Linked DNA regions of Homo sapiens. The protein of the gene in region 1 interacts with the protein of each later gene in a biochemical or structural test. Each region holds a gene or a part of one and is shown in the gene's direction. Other genes may lie near its edges.

Region 1 (7,248 bases):
GCAAAGATGGGCTTTTTAATGCTGGGATCACTGGGTAGCCATTTGGAAAAGGTAAAATTAGATCTATAGTCCACATCATACATAAGAACAAATGCCAAATGGATCACGAATCTAAATGTAAAATATGAAGCTACATAACTACTAGAAGAAAACATAGTGAATTCCTCTTTAATCTCAGTATGGGAAAAGGCTAACTATGACTTAAAATCCAGGGGCAGCCGGGTGCACTGGCTCACACCTGTAATCCCAACACTTTGGGAGGCCGAGGCATGCGGATCACGAGGTCAGGAGTTTGAGACCAGCCTGACCAATACGGTGAAACCCCATCTCTACTAAAAATACAAAAATTAGCCGGACGTGGTGGTCCTCACCTGTAATCCCAGCTCAGGAGGCTGAGGCAGGAGAATCGCTTGAACCTGGAGGTGGAGGTTGCAGTGAGGCGAGATTGCGCCATTACACTCCAGCCTGGGCGACAGGGCAAGATTCCATTTCAAAAAAAAAAAAAAAATAGTGGCCAGGCACAGTGGCTCACGCCTGTAATCCCAGCACTTTGGGAGGCCAAGGTGGGTGGATCACCTGAAGTCAGGAGTTCAAGACCAGCCTGGCCAACATGGTGAAAACCCATCTCTACTAAAAAATACAAAAATTAGCTGGGTGTGGTGGTGCATGCCTGTAAGCCCAGCTACTTGGGAGGCGGAGGTTGCAGTGAGCCGAGAATGAGCCATTGCACTCCAGCCTGGGCAACAAGAGCAAAATTCAGTCTCAAAAAAAAAAAGTATGCTAATTTGGGAATCTTTTATTGCCATAGTAAAATTAATTAATTAAATTAAAAAATCAAAAAATAGTATGCAAAATATACCATAAGCAAAGTCAAATACAATTTACAAACTAGGAGAAAATATTTGCAACATAAAGCACAAATAAAAGGCTAATATTCCTAATATACAAGGAACTCATAAAACTTGAGGGACAAAGGATAAAAATCCAATAGAAAAATGGAAAATAGGCCGGGCACAGTGGCTCACACCTGTAATCCCAGCACTTTGGGAGGCCGAGGTGGGCGGATCACCTGAGGTCGGGAGTTCGAGACCAGCCGGACCAACCTGGAGAAACCCCGTCTCTACTAAAAATACAAAATTAGCCAGACGTGCTGGCGCATGCCTGTAATCCCAGCTACTCGAGAGGCTGAGGCAGGAGAATCGCTTTAACCCGGGAGGCGGAGGTTGCAGTGAGCTGAGATCGTGCCATTGCACTCCAGCCTGGGCAACAAGAGTGAAACTCCGTCTCGGAAAAAAAAAAAAAGAAAAATGGAAAATAGACAATTCCGAAAAAAGGACATTATATATATGTTTAAACATATCAAAAGTTTATAACTGAAATCTGGGACAATTCAAGCAACAAAATAAATAATGATAGCAATGGATTATAACTCATAAAGCAAATATCTCCTATCATCCCGGCACTTTGGGAGGCCGAGGTGGGTGGATCACTCGAGGCCAGGAGTTAGAGACTAGCCTGGCCAACATCAAAACCCCGTCTCTACAAAAAAATACAAAAATTAGCCGAGCACAGTGGCATGCACCTGTGGTCTCAGCTACTGGGGAGGCTAAGGCAGAATAATCTCTAGAGCCCGAGAGACAGAGGTTGCAGTGAGCCAAGACTGTGCCACTGTACTCCAGCCTGGGCACGGGAGTGAAACTCTGTCTCAAAAAAAAAGGCAAAGAAAAAAGAAACTACTCTTCTAGGCCCGGCCTGGTTCCTCAACACTTTGGGAGGCCTAGGCGGCAGGATCACTTGAGCCCAGGAGTTTGAGAGCAGCCTGGGCAACATGGCAAAACCTGGTCTCTACAATAATTTAAAAATTAGCTGGGCATGGTGTTGGGGGCCTGTAGTCCCAGCTATGTGAGAGGGTGTGGTGGGAGGATCGTTGGAGCCATGATTGTGCCACTGCACTCCAGCCTGGGTGACAGAGTCAGATTATGTCTCCAAAAAATAAATAAAAGGAAAAAAGGGTAGGGGGGAAGACTCTTAGTCCATAATAGTCTACCTTTCTCCCATCCTTGATTGTGAATTTAATCTGTTGGGGAATGTGGTTATTTGTCCTGTGGAAGTTGATTACTTCATCTCGGTGTTTTTATTTTTCCCTTTCTTGTATTTCCTGTAAACTGTTGGCTAGATCTAAGGTTTAATTAGATTTGAGTTCAATTTGAGGGATCAGGAATACTTCACAGGAGGAACTGGGTATTTTCTATTGCATCACATCATGAGGTATCTCGTATCTGGTTATCTCACTTTTAATGGTACTAAGATTGATCAGTGGTTCAAATGGTATCAACCTGGCTGGGCGTGGCAGCTCACGTCTGTAATCCCAGCACTTTGGGAGGCTGAGGCGGGCAGATCATCTGAAGTCACAAGTTCCAGCCCACGCTGGCCAACATGGTGAAACCCCATCTCTACGAAAAATACAAAAATTAGCCGGGTGTGGTGGCACGCACTGTAATCCCAGCTACTCGGGAAGCTGAGCCAGGAGAATCACTTGAACCCGGAGGTGGAGGTTGCAGTGAGCCGAGATCGCGCCACTGCACTCCAGCCTGGGTGACAGAGCAAGTCTCCGTCTCAATAATAATAATAATAATTTCTTTTGTAGAGATGGGGGCTCACCATGTTGACCAGGCTGGTTTCGAACTTCTGGCCTCAAGCGATCTTCCGCCTAGGGTCTCCAAAGTACTGGGATTACAGGCGTCAGCCACCACACCCAGCCAAGTTCAACATCTTTTCTAAGAGCCAGATGTCATTTAAGTTTATCCCTATCAATAACTGACATTCAAATGCTGAAATCTTGCCCCCAGTGGTAGCAATCTTCATAATAATGCCAGATGAACTTTCCTACCATAGAACTATAGTTGAAAGTCTATGTCAATCTTTTTACTACAAAGCACTGTAGGAAAAAAATTTAAGATGAAACTAATTTTTAAAGTTGCATTACACAAGTAAAACTCATCTCAGAGATTATTACTATGATTGGGAACCAAGTTGACAGATTTGGGAGGTCTTCACTGTGAAGCTTTATGGAAATATCTAAGTCAAAAAAACTAGTAGGGAGCTAAGCATTATAAAAAAAAAACTACACGGCTGTCTCTAGGAGGGGGAACTGGAGCAGGGACACGAGGCAAGGAGCAGCGGCTTTGCATCATAACCTCATCTGTGCATGTACTACGTCGACATTACACAGGGCAAATATGGAAGAAAAGTAATACAGTCAGCTGACAACGTGCCCCCCAAAAGCCTGTTATATATACACGATTCCAGCCGGGCGCGGTGGCTCAGGCCTGTAATCTCAGCACTTTGGGAGGCCGAGGCGAGCAGATCGCTTGAGTCCACAAATTCGAGACCAGCCTGGGCAGCATGTCAAAACCCCATCTCTGCAAAACACACAAAAATTAGCCGGGTGGGCCGGGTACGGTGGTTCACCCTTGCAATCTCAGCACTTTGAGAGGCCCAGGCGGGCAAATCACCTGAGGTCAGGAGTTTGAGACCAGCCTGTCCAACATGGTGAAACCCCCGTCTCTGCTAAAAATACAAAAATTAGCCGGGCGTGGTGGTGCATGCCTGTAATCCCAGCTACTGGGGAGGCTGAGGCAGGAGAATTGCTTGAACCTGCGAGGTGGAGGTTGCAATGAACCTAGATAGCGCCACTGCACTTCAGCCTGGGCAACAGAGTGAGACTCCGTCCCAAAAAAGAAAAAAATTAGCCGGGCGTGGTGGCGCGCGCGGGAGCCTGAGGTGGGAGGATCGTCTGAGCCCGGGAGTTTGAGGCTGTGGTGAGCAGTGATCGCTTCACTGCACTTCAGCTTGGGTGACAGAGCGAGACCCTGACTCAAAAAATAAACAAACATAAAAAAACGCTTCCAATGTTTTGTTCCCTTACATCAGAATCCACTTGGACAATATTTAAAGGGGCTAAGGTCATATAAGGCTCATCTGGCGACTGAAAAGTCTTCAAAGAGGTTGACGCGTCCGAGGTGAGTCTGAAGTTTGGAGGACAGCACGGGACCGCGATTCCAAGGCGCCCAGGTTGAGAGCGCAGGCCGCCCGCCAACCTCCACCCTCGCTCCAGGCCCAGCCGACACAAAGCCTCGCGGGAGGTGGAGCCTCGTGACGTCACAGAGACGCCCGCCCCCTTTACGTCGTGCTCTGAGGAGGCCAGGAGATTTCTGGCGGCGCCGGCGCCATTTTGCTGGAGCCTGCGACCGAGTGGGAGTGGAGTGGAGCGGCTGTGGTTGCCGACTCTTTCCTCTTCCCCACGGTCCAGTCAGCGGGTTAATTAGGCCATCGGCCCTCGAGCCGAGACTTGTCTCTTATTTAGTTCTGGGGAGCGCCTCGTCGACATGAGTGATGTGGAGGAAAACAACTTCGAGGGCAGAGTGAGTACAAAGCCGCGGGAGCCGTCTAGGCGGCGGCCCAATGCTCGGGGTTTCACGGGAACAAGCGCGGTCGGGCGGGGTTGCGGGTAGTCCCGCGAGGAGCAACCTCTGGAGCCATCGCGATTGATTCCTCCCATCCCAAGATGGCTTCTGGGTTCCACTCCTTCCCCAAACACCACGGATAACACCCCTCCCCCTTTTTTGGAGGCTGACTGATACCTGGACTTCTGGGTCCTCTTCCCTCCCCGCCCCCGCATTGCTTCCTCCCTTCTCCCCACCCCTGAGGCTTCCTTATGTCTGCTCCGAGGTGTGGGTCCCCGTCGCGGTTGGGCGGGAGGAGGCGGCAGGGAGCTCCCCTCCGTCCGGATAGTGGTAGGTGCTTCCTGCGGTGGCATTTCTGGCGACCCCGAGCATCGTAGAGGGTCTCGGGATCGAAAGTGCGCGGGGCTGCTTTCCGGGCGGGGAGAAGCTGGCGTGGGACTAGCTGGGGCCTGTGTCTCCTTGGCTCTCTATTTCAGTGAGCGGCCGCGTCTCTGTTGGAACCGGCGGCGTTGCGTCTAAAAAGGCGAAAGCCTTGAGGTTGAAGGTGGGACGAGCCTAATGAAGTGGTTAGTCAACGACCGCACCGACCCTTAAGCGTTCTTAAGACGAGAGCTGTGAGGGGAAACTACGCAAGGAGCCCTTTTCCCTTAATGTCCCTTCGACTTTCCTTTCACTTCGAAATGAATGTGGAAATGCTGTCACGCCTTATTTTTCTAATTCCTCGATGTTGGGTTTTTTCTCTTCTTTATATCTCAACTTTTAATGCTCTTCTTCCTATGACCTTTCATCTAAAAACTGACCACTCCTTTACAGGTTTTTACGGTAAAAAAAAAAAAATCTGTCTTTCTTTAATCTTACATAGCTGAACGAATTCATTGGCTCAGTATTTTTAAGATAACTAGTCAGTATATACTGTTCTGTAACTTAAAAGATGACCTGAAAATTAACAGGCCCTCTCCCATTTCTCTTCTCACTCTATCCCCCACCGAAGAGGGCTCAGAAAAAAGTTTTTATTAATATATTTGGGGTCGGAGAAATACAAACATCACAAAGAATACGATATCCCCAGCTTAAATGTACTGGAACGTTTGTCAGTGAGTTTCATTTCCAAAGTTTACCCTACATAGGGAATTGTAGAAGTGAGTTAGTAGAAGTGAGTTCGTGTGAAACCCTGGAAAGAAAACAAAAGCCCCATGCAACACGTTCCGGGCTGTTGTGTAGATGTTTATTCTAGTCACTAGGGGAAGCACATAAAAACACCTGAGGTGTGTGTGCTGAAGGGCGAATTTTGTCCTTTTGGGGAGTTCATGATATAAACATCTAGAACCAAAAAGTCAAATCAGAAGGTCAGTTTAGGCTTTAGTTCTCTTTGAGGAAAGATTTAAAGCAATAGACTATAATAGTTACCCGGTAGACTAAAAAATTTGCCTTTAATTCTTTTGATTGGAATTTTTTTTTACAAAGTTTGGAGCATGGAAACAAATGAAAATTGAACCTGCTTATTTTTTAGGATGGTGTATTGATGGCCCCAACAGAACTTTCTAAAATCATGCGATAAACATATATGATAGTAGTTGTAAAATGCTTCTTGTTTTGAAAATGTTGAGTAATTATCGATAGAAATTTTGCTGTCCATTCATACATTCCTTCAATTAACTTTCATTGTTAAAAAATTGGGGGATTGATGTTTGGTTTGGTTTGTGGGGAGTGAAGAGGACTACTGGAGGGACCTTGTTTGCTTGCTTTTTTTCTTTTTTTAATTTATCATCAAGTCTAGGAAAGGAGTAAGTTGCCGACAATTGTCACTTTTCCCTCCTAAGAAAGTAACATGTTAAGATTCCCACCTACCAGCCTGGGTGACAGTGAGACTCCCGTCTCAAAAAAAAAAAAAAAGATTCCCACCCACTTTTAAGCTAAAGTATATGTAGGCATTAAAGATTTATTTAATAGAAATAAAGGGCCCTCTTACGGCCCTTTGTGGTCATAGGAAATATTTTTTTCACAAGTGGTACCCAAGTGTATTTTAGTGTAAATCAACTAGTGCTTGTAGGCTCACCTGTTGTATCTTTTTATTTTTCGTCTTTTAGTTTTTATAGGATGAGATAATTGTCTTTATTTGTAATTGGTTAAAGAATTAGAACAATGCGAGAAGCTTGTCTGGAGATGCCCTTTTTAAAATCGTTTCTGGCCGGGCGCAGTGGCTCACGCCTGTAATCCAACAATTTTTGGGAGGCTGAGGCGGGTGGATTACTTGAGGTTAGGAGTTCGAGACTAGCCTGCCCAACGTGGTGAAACCCTGTCTCTACTAAAAATACAAAATTAGCCGGGCGTGGTGGCGTGCGCCTGTGATCACAGCTACTTAGGAGGCTGAGGCAGGAGAATTACTTGAACCTGGGAGGCGGAATTGCGCCACGACACTCCAGTCTAGGCAACAGAATGAGACTCTTGTCTCAAAAATAAGTAAATACGTAGGTCCATAAAAGCAATTTTAAGTGGAGATGTCCTTTGGAGCTGGGAGTGAAGGTAGCACTTAAGCGGTGGCTTTGCATGTCTTGATAAAAGTAATGAGTTGTTTGCCTCAATACAGCTTCAACTAAAATTCGGATTTTGAGCTCAAAAAATGTTAATGCCCTTCATAGAAATTAAGGGGAATGGAAATCTTTTCTTAACATTTTACACCTCTACCCCTAAAATTTTAAGAACTGTACTTTATAAAAATGTGCAATTTTCATACAGCATCCCAGTGTTGATCATGGAGGTTAATGATTCTTTATTGTTAGGG
Region 2 (7,024 bases), on another chromosome or scaffold:
GGGGTTTCACCGTGTTAGCCCAGGATGGTCTCAATCTCCTGACCTCGTGATCCGCCCGCCTCGGCCTTCCAAAGTGCTGGGATTACAGGTGTGAGCCACCGCGCCCGGCCGAGGTAGTTTTTTAGTAGTCCTTTACTCCTATAAATTACTTTTTTTTTTTTTTTTTGATGATCTGTTAATAGTCCTTGGTTTAGAGGCTTTTGCATACTTGAGTTTTCACCAAAAAATTCTTTTCAAACCAGTGAGGCATTACAGACCAGTGAAGATATTGTATAATCTAAAATGTGTCTCTTCACTTTCATCAGTCCTTGAGGAAGGTGTAACTTTTTTTTGTGACCATATGAGGAACACATGTAACCTTTGTGGAAGAAATAGAATAAACTTTTTTCAAGGTCAACAGAATATTAAAATAAATGAAAAAAATTAAATTCACTAATACAGGATCAATGTAAAATTATCTTCAACAAATTAGTTGTCCAGAACACAAAGGGCTGGTTCAATAACTGTTAATTTTACTCTCAGCAGAACCTAGAACAAATAATATTCGTTTGTTTTTAATTTAAAAAATCTTTTTTTTTTTTGTAGAGACGGGGGTCTTGCCATGTTTCCCAGGATGGTCTCAAACTCCTGACCTCAAGCGATCCTCCCACTTCAGCCTCCCAAAGTGGGAGCCAGACAAATAGTTATTTTGGGAAAAATATCTTTGAAGTTTTTCTTTTTAATTCAATTAAAAATTTTTGAGGTTAGGTAAGCAGTTCTCATGAGACATTTCCAAAGCTTTTGCCTTTGTATTGTTACTCTGTAGTTGAAAACTTGTGTCAGATATGGTAGGTGACATTGATTTGATTACAAAATAATACACTTATATTATTGAAACTTCAAGCTTATATTTCAGGGTTAAAACAGGCAAGGCGGTGATCTTTTAATCTAATTTAGGAAATTAGGTAAGGCAGAGTTTCATATTTTAACAAAATGAAAATGTATGATTATACAGTCCGTGAAAAAGGCTGGTATAACCAGACTGGTAGCTTTAGGAACTTTTAAATTATGTGCACTTTTTGGTCCCTGTCATAGATCACCTAGAATTCTTGTGCTTTTTAAATTTTTTTGTGAGACAGAGTTTCGCTCTTGTTGCCCAGGCTGGAGTGCAATGGCGCGATCTTGGCTCATTGCAACCTCTGCCTCCCGGGTTCAAGCGATTTTCCTGCGTCAGCCTCCCAAGTAGCTGGAATTACAGGCATGCGCCACCATACCCGGCTAATTTTGTATTTTTAGTAGCGACGGGGTTTCTCCATGTTGGTCAGGCTGGTCTTGAACTCCTGACCTCAGGTGATCTGCCTGCCTCGGCCTCCCAAAGTGCTGGGATTACAGGCATGAGCCACTGTGCCCGGTAGTCTTGTGCTTTTAAGTAGAGTACTTTAACTTCACTGTTGTTTGTTATTTATATAGTGTATTACAGTGAGTTCATTGCCCTATAGTTCACTGCCTATAGGTTCATTGCAGAACCATGACTAAGTTCATTCTCTTCAGGAACCTACATTCCAAGGCATCATTATTTACATTATATTAATTCTATAATCTACTCATGTGTTGTTTTTCGTATCTCAAGGTGGTGCTGTGAGTAGGTGGTGTGTTTATTTTTGAGATAGGGTCTGGCTCTATCGCCCAGTCTGGAATGCAATGGCATGATCTTGGCTCACTGCAACCTCTGCCTCCTGGGCTCAAGTGATCCTCCCACCTCAGCCTCCCAAGCTGAGACTACAGGCTCATGCCACCACACCTGGCCAATTTTTGTATTTTTTTCTAGAGACAGGGTTTCACCATGTTGCCCAGGCTGGTCTCAAACTCCTGGGCTCAAGTGATCCACCCGCCTTGGCCTCCCAAAGTGCTGAGATTACAGGCATGAGCCACCATGCCCAGCCAAGTAGGTGTTTTAAACTGTTTTTCGACAATGGTAATGAGATTGCATAAGTGATTTTTCTCTCCTAACTCTTCTTTATGACCTAGTTCATCTGCAAGATGGTTGGCTGGGATTCCGGGTGTGGTCAAGATTTTAGAAAGTGTTGGCCGGGCGCAGTGGCCCACGCCTGTAATCCCAGCGCTTTGGGAGGCCGAGGTGGGTGGATCACCTGAGTTCGGGAGTTCAAGACCAGCCTGTCCAACATGGAGAAACCCCATCTCTACTAAAAATACAAAATTAGCTGGGCGTGGTGGCACATGCCTGTGATCCGAGGTACTCAGGAGGCTGAGGCAGGAGAATTGCTTGAACCCGGGAGGCGGAGGTTGCAGTGGGCCGAGATCACACCACTACACTCCAGCCTGGGCAACAAGAGTGAAACTCCATCTCAAAAAAAAAAAAAAAAGATTTAGAAAGTGTTTTAAGTATTCCTTTCCAAATGCAGAATATGTGACCTTGGACTTTTTAGCAAGGTTCTGTAAGTGGAAGAAAATTGACATTAAACAACAGCCTTAGGAGCCTCTTCTGTGCCAGGCACTTGATAGCTGTTTCTCATTAGAGAAAACATTATAATCAAGCAGGTACTGTTTTCCTAATTTTACAAGTCAGGAAACTGGGATTCAGGTTAAGTAACTTGTCCATAGCGACCTGGCTTAGAAGTGATGGGGTTGGAATTCAAACCCAGTGCTCTGGACTCGAAAGTCCTCTTTATTCTACTGCTCAACAACTGACATAAATTCACCACAGCTTTTGTATCAACATCCTACGTAACACTGACCCACTCTGTTTTGATATACATAGTTTTTCTGTAGAAGTGCTGTTTTGCATGAATGCATTCATGATGTGATCAGGGCTTTTGGTACTGGTCCTCCCACTCCCAATTTTTTTTTTAAATGCCTGTCGCGTTAAAAATTTGGGAGTTGGGGCCGGGCGCGGTGGCTCACGCCTGTAATCCCAGCACTTCGGGAGGTCGAGGCAGGCGGATCACGTGAAACCCCGTCTCTACTAAAAATACAAAAATTTGCTGGGTGTGATGGTACGCACCTGTAATCCCAGCTACTCAGGAGGCTGAAGTAGGAGAATTGCTTAAACTCAGGAGACAGAGGTTGCAGTGAGCCGAGATTGCGCCACTGTACTCTAGCCTGGGAGGCAGAGCAAGACTCCATCAAAAAAACAAACAAACAAAAAAACACACACACAGAAAAACAAACAAAAAAGCAATTATAATTAAATTTGAGTAGAGGAGATAGATAGGAATCCAACAGTTATAGAATAGTGCCAGGTGCTATGGTGGAGGTATGCACAACTCACTTAAGAAACATGAGAAGGGACCCCGGGAGAGGCAGGGTCTTAGTGAAGACTTTCAAGAAAAAGTGATACTTAACGCTGAGTAGCAGTTGCCCTGGGAACTGGCTCGAAATTGGGGAGCTCAAGAAACAGCAGCAAGTAGTGTGACTGGAGAGGTGGGTTTTACCTCGGGTGTGTGGCAGGTACCTGATCTTGGAGGGCTGTCAGAAACGTTTAGGAGTTTGAACTTTCTTTTTGTTGTTGTTTTTTGGGACAGAATCTCTCTCTGTTGCCCAGGCTGGAGTGAAGTGGCATGATCTCGGCTCACTGCAGCCTCTGGTTCCCGGGTTCAAGTGATTCTCCTGCCTCAGCCTCCCAAGTAGCTGGGATTACAGGTGCATGCCACCATGCCCTGCTGATTTTTTTTTTTTTTTGTATTTTTAGTAAAGATGGGGTTTTACCATGTTGACTAGGCTGGTTTCAAACTCCTGACCTCAAGTGGCCCACCTGCCTCTGCCTGCCAAAGTGCTGGGATTACAGGCGTGAGCCACTGCACGTGGCTGAGTTTGAACTTTCTCTGTAAAATGCCTTTTAGGGATTTTAAGAGATTAGAAAGATGGGTGGCAAGGGAGTAAAGGGTAGTTTGGGAGAAGGTGGCTGCAGACTGCAAGACATATTAGGAGGCTGTTGTTGCTGTATAGGAGCGAGGCAGTGGAGTCCAAGGGAACTAAGGCATTGCCTGTGGGAATGGAGGGGAGCAGACAGACACCAAAAATACCAAGGACTGTGATTAACCCAGTTTTGATGATCAGTTAGCTGTGAAGGAGGGGAGGGGAGGAGAGATGGAGAAATGACACCTTGGTTTCTAGCTATGGAGAAGGATAGATAAGGGTTGAATAAGGAATTCCAGAGAAGCAGCAGATTTTGGAGAAAGCACATGTTTCTTTTTTTTTTTTTCGTCTTTTGAGACAGGGTCTCCCTCTGTCGCCCAGGCTGGAGTGCAGTGGCGCAACCTCAGCTCACTGCAACCTCTGCCCCCTGGGTTCAAGTGATTCTCCTGCCTCAGCCTTCCAAGTAGCTGCCAGCCATGCCCAGCTAATTTTTTAATTTTTAGTAGAGACGGTGTTTCACCATATTGGCCAGGCTGGTCTTGAACTCCAGACCTTGGTGATCCGCCTGCCATGGCCTCCCAAAGTGCTGGGATTACAGGTGTCAGCTACCACGCCAGGCCTCCGGCTAATTTTTGTATATTTTGTAGAGACAGGGTCTTGCCATGTTGCCCAGGCTGGTCTCAAACTCCTGGGCTCAAGTGATCTGCCCACCTCAGCCTCCCAGAGTGCTGAGATTGCAAGTTTAATTTTGGACCACCAAAAAGATGAGTCCACATGTAGACCCCCACTCTGGCCTTGGTGCTCTAACATCTCCATTTCTTTCTTCTTTTTTCTTTTTTTTTTTTTGAGATGGAGTTTCGCTCTTGTTGCCCAGGCTGGAGTGCAATGGCGCGATCTCAGCTCGCTGCAACCTCTGCCTCCCAGGTTCAAGCGATTCTCCTGCCTCAGCCTCCCGAGTAGCTGGGATTACAAGCATGTACCACCATGCCTGGCTAATTTTTTTGTATTTTTATTAGAGACGGGATTTCTCCATGTTGGCTTGGCGGGTCTCAAACTCTTGACCTTAGGTGATCTGCCTGCCTCAGCCTCCCAAAGTGCTGGGATTACCGGCGTGAGCCACCGCACCCAGCCTAACATCCCCACCTCTTTGACCATTTCTTCCCTTGTAACAGGCCTGAGGACCTGAGGTCCCTTTTTTCCTCAGAAGATAGTTGCTACCATTCACTTTATAACCAGGACTCTTTCTTAAGCCTGGGAGGACAGTGGGATGTATCCTGCCAGGCCCTTTCCTCTCCTTTTGTTCATTGTAGACAAGAGACAGAGAATGATAATAAGGATATAAACTTGCTTCACAAGGTTGGCATCCTTATCCCCTGTTTTACAGATAAGAAAATGGAGGCTAATAGAAATTAATTTATTGAAAGGCACACAACTAGTAAGTGGTAGAACCTGGACTCTAATCCAGGTTCTGACTCCAGAGTTTTCTATCGCTTTACTACCTCTAAAACAAGACTTAACCTCAGCCAACTGTAACCTTTTTGGCATTCTTTTTTTTTTTTTTTTTTGATGGAGTTTCGCTCTCGTCACTCAGGCTTGAGTGCAATGGCCTGATCTCGGCTCACTGCAACCTCTGCCTCCTGGGTTCAAGCAATTCTCCTGCCTAAGCCTCCCAAGTAGCTTTGATTACAGGCTCCCGCCAGCATGCCCAGCTAATTTTTGTATTTTTAGTAGAGATGGGGTTTCTCCAAGTTGGCCAGGCTGGTCTCGAACTTCTGACCTCAGGCGATCCCCCCGCCTCGGCCTTCCAAAGTGCTGGGATTACAAGCGTGAACGACTGTGCCCGGCCACATTTATAGCATTCTTACGGTCCCTTCTGAGATAGGAAGTGGAAGCCCCAGTGGACTTTTTGTTTGTTTGTTTGTTTTTTAAGACAGAGCCTCGCTGTGTCCCCATGCTGGAGTGCAGTGGCACGATCTCTGCTCACTGCAACCTCCGCCTCCCGAGTTCAAGTGATTCTCCTGCCTCAGCCTCCCGAGTAGCTGGGGTTACAGGCACATGCCACTACTGCCCGGCTAATTTTTGTATTTTTAGTAGAGGGGTTTCACCATGTTGGCCAGGCTGGTCTCAAACTCCTGACCTCAAATGATCCACCCACCTCAGCCTCCCAAAGTTGTGGGATTACAGGCATGATGCTGGAGTGCAGTGGTGCTATCTTGGCTCACTACAACCTCTGACTCCTGAATTCAAGCGATTCTCCTGGGTCAGCCCCTCGAGTATCTGGGATTACAGGCGCCCGCCGCCAGGCCCAGCCCTCCAGTGGACTTTCATTCCCGTTTGTTATTGCTGAGAGTGGAGCTCATCAAGTAGCCCCAAGCTCTTGTAGGGAAAGAAGGCAGAAAGACTTCTCTGTGCAAAGTGCATTTTCTCACACGGCACTTGTAGTATCTAGTGGAAATGTCTTCCTGTAAACGGTTCATTCAACAGCGCTTACAGTTGACTAGCTGCATCCCTGATAACAGACAAACGTTGCTGTATGGAGCTTCGTCCTAGTGGGAGGAGAGGGATAAAAAACAAGCATGGCCGGGCGTGGTGGCTCACGCCTGTAATCCCAGCACTTTGGGATGCTGAGGCGGGTGGATCACGAGGTCAGGAGTTCGAGACCAGCCTGACCAACATGGTGAAACCCTGTCTCTACTAAAAATACAAAAATTAGCCGGGCGTGGTGGTGCACGCCTGTAATCCTAGCAACTCAGGAGGCTGAGGCAGGAGAATAGCTTGAACCCGGGAGGCAGGGGTTACAGTGAGCTGAGATTGCACCACTGCACTCTAGCCTGGGCGACAGAGTGAGACTGTGTCTCAAAAGCAAAGAAACAAACAAACAAACATGTTCACATAAGGTGTCATTTGATGAGAAGTGCTGTGAAGAGAAATACTTAGGGATGGAGTATTGTTACAGAGTATTTCTGTGGCCTACAGGTACAGAGAACAATCAGATATGTGTAACGTGTGCACTTTGAGGAGGTGGTCTTGAAAAGAATTTCAGGGATGGCTGGGAGCTTGCTCGGGGAAGAATGTTCCCAGGTAAAGGGAACAGCAGGTTCAGAAGGCCTTGAGGTAAACTCATTCTTGAGCTGTTCCAGGAATAGCAAGGATGCCAAGCATGGTTAGA

What was found. The genes of interacting proteins can lie anywhere in the genome.
Region 2: of the proteins of TRA2A (region 1) and UBE4B, one has a biochemical effect on the other in vitro, tested with the Homo sapiens proteins (one study listed by BioGRID).

What each region holds. Positions count from the first base shown.
Region 1 is NC_000007.14:23,528,965-23,536,212, reverse strand, and holds the start of TRA2A (transformer-2 protein homolog alpha), read left to right. Parts: upstream 1-4,231; 5' UTR 4,232-4,388; coding exon 4,389-4,424; intron 4,425-4,942; exon of another isoform or gene 4,943-5,032; intron 5,033-7,248. UniProt on the Homo sapiens protein: Sequence-specific RNA-binding protein which participates in the control of pre-mRNA splicing.
Region 2 is NC_000001.11:10,035,934-10,042,957, forward strand, and holds part of UBE4B (ubiquitin conjugation factor E4 B), read left to right. Parts: intron 1-7,024. UniProt on the Homo sapiens protein: Ubiquitin-protein ligase that probably functions as an E3 ligase in conjunction with specific E1 and E2 ligases. May also function as an E4 ligase mediating the assembly of polyubiquitin chains on substrates ubiquitinated by another E3 ubiquitin ligase.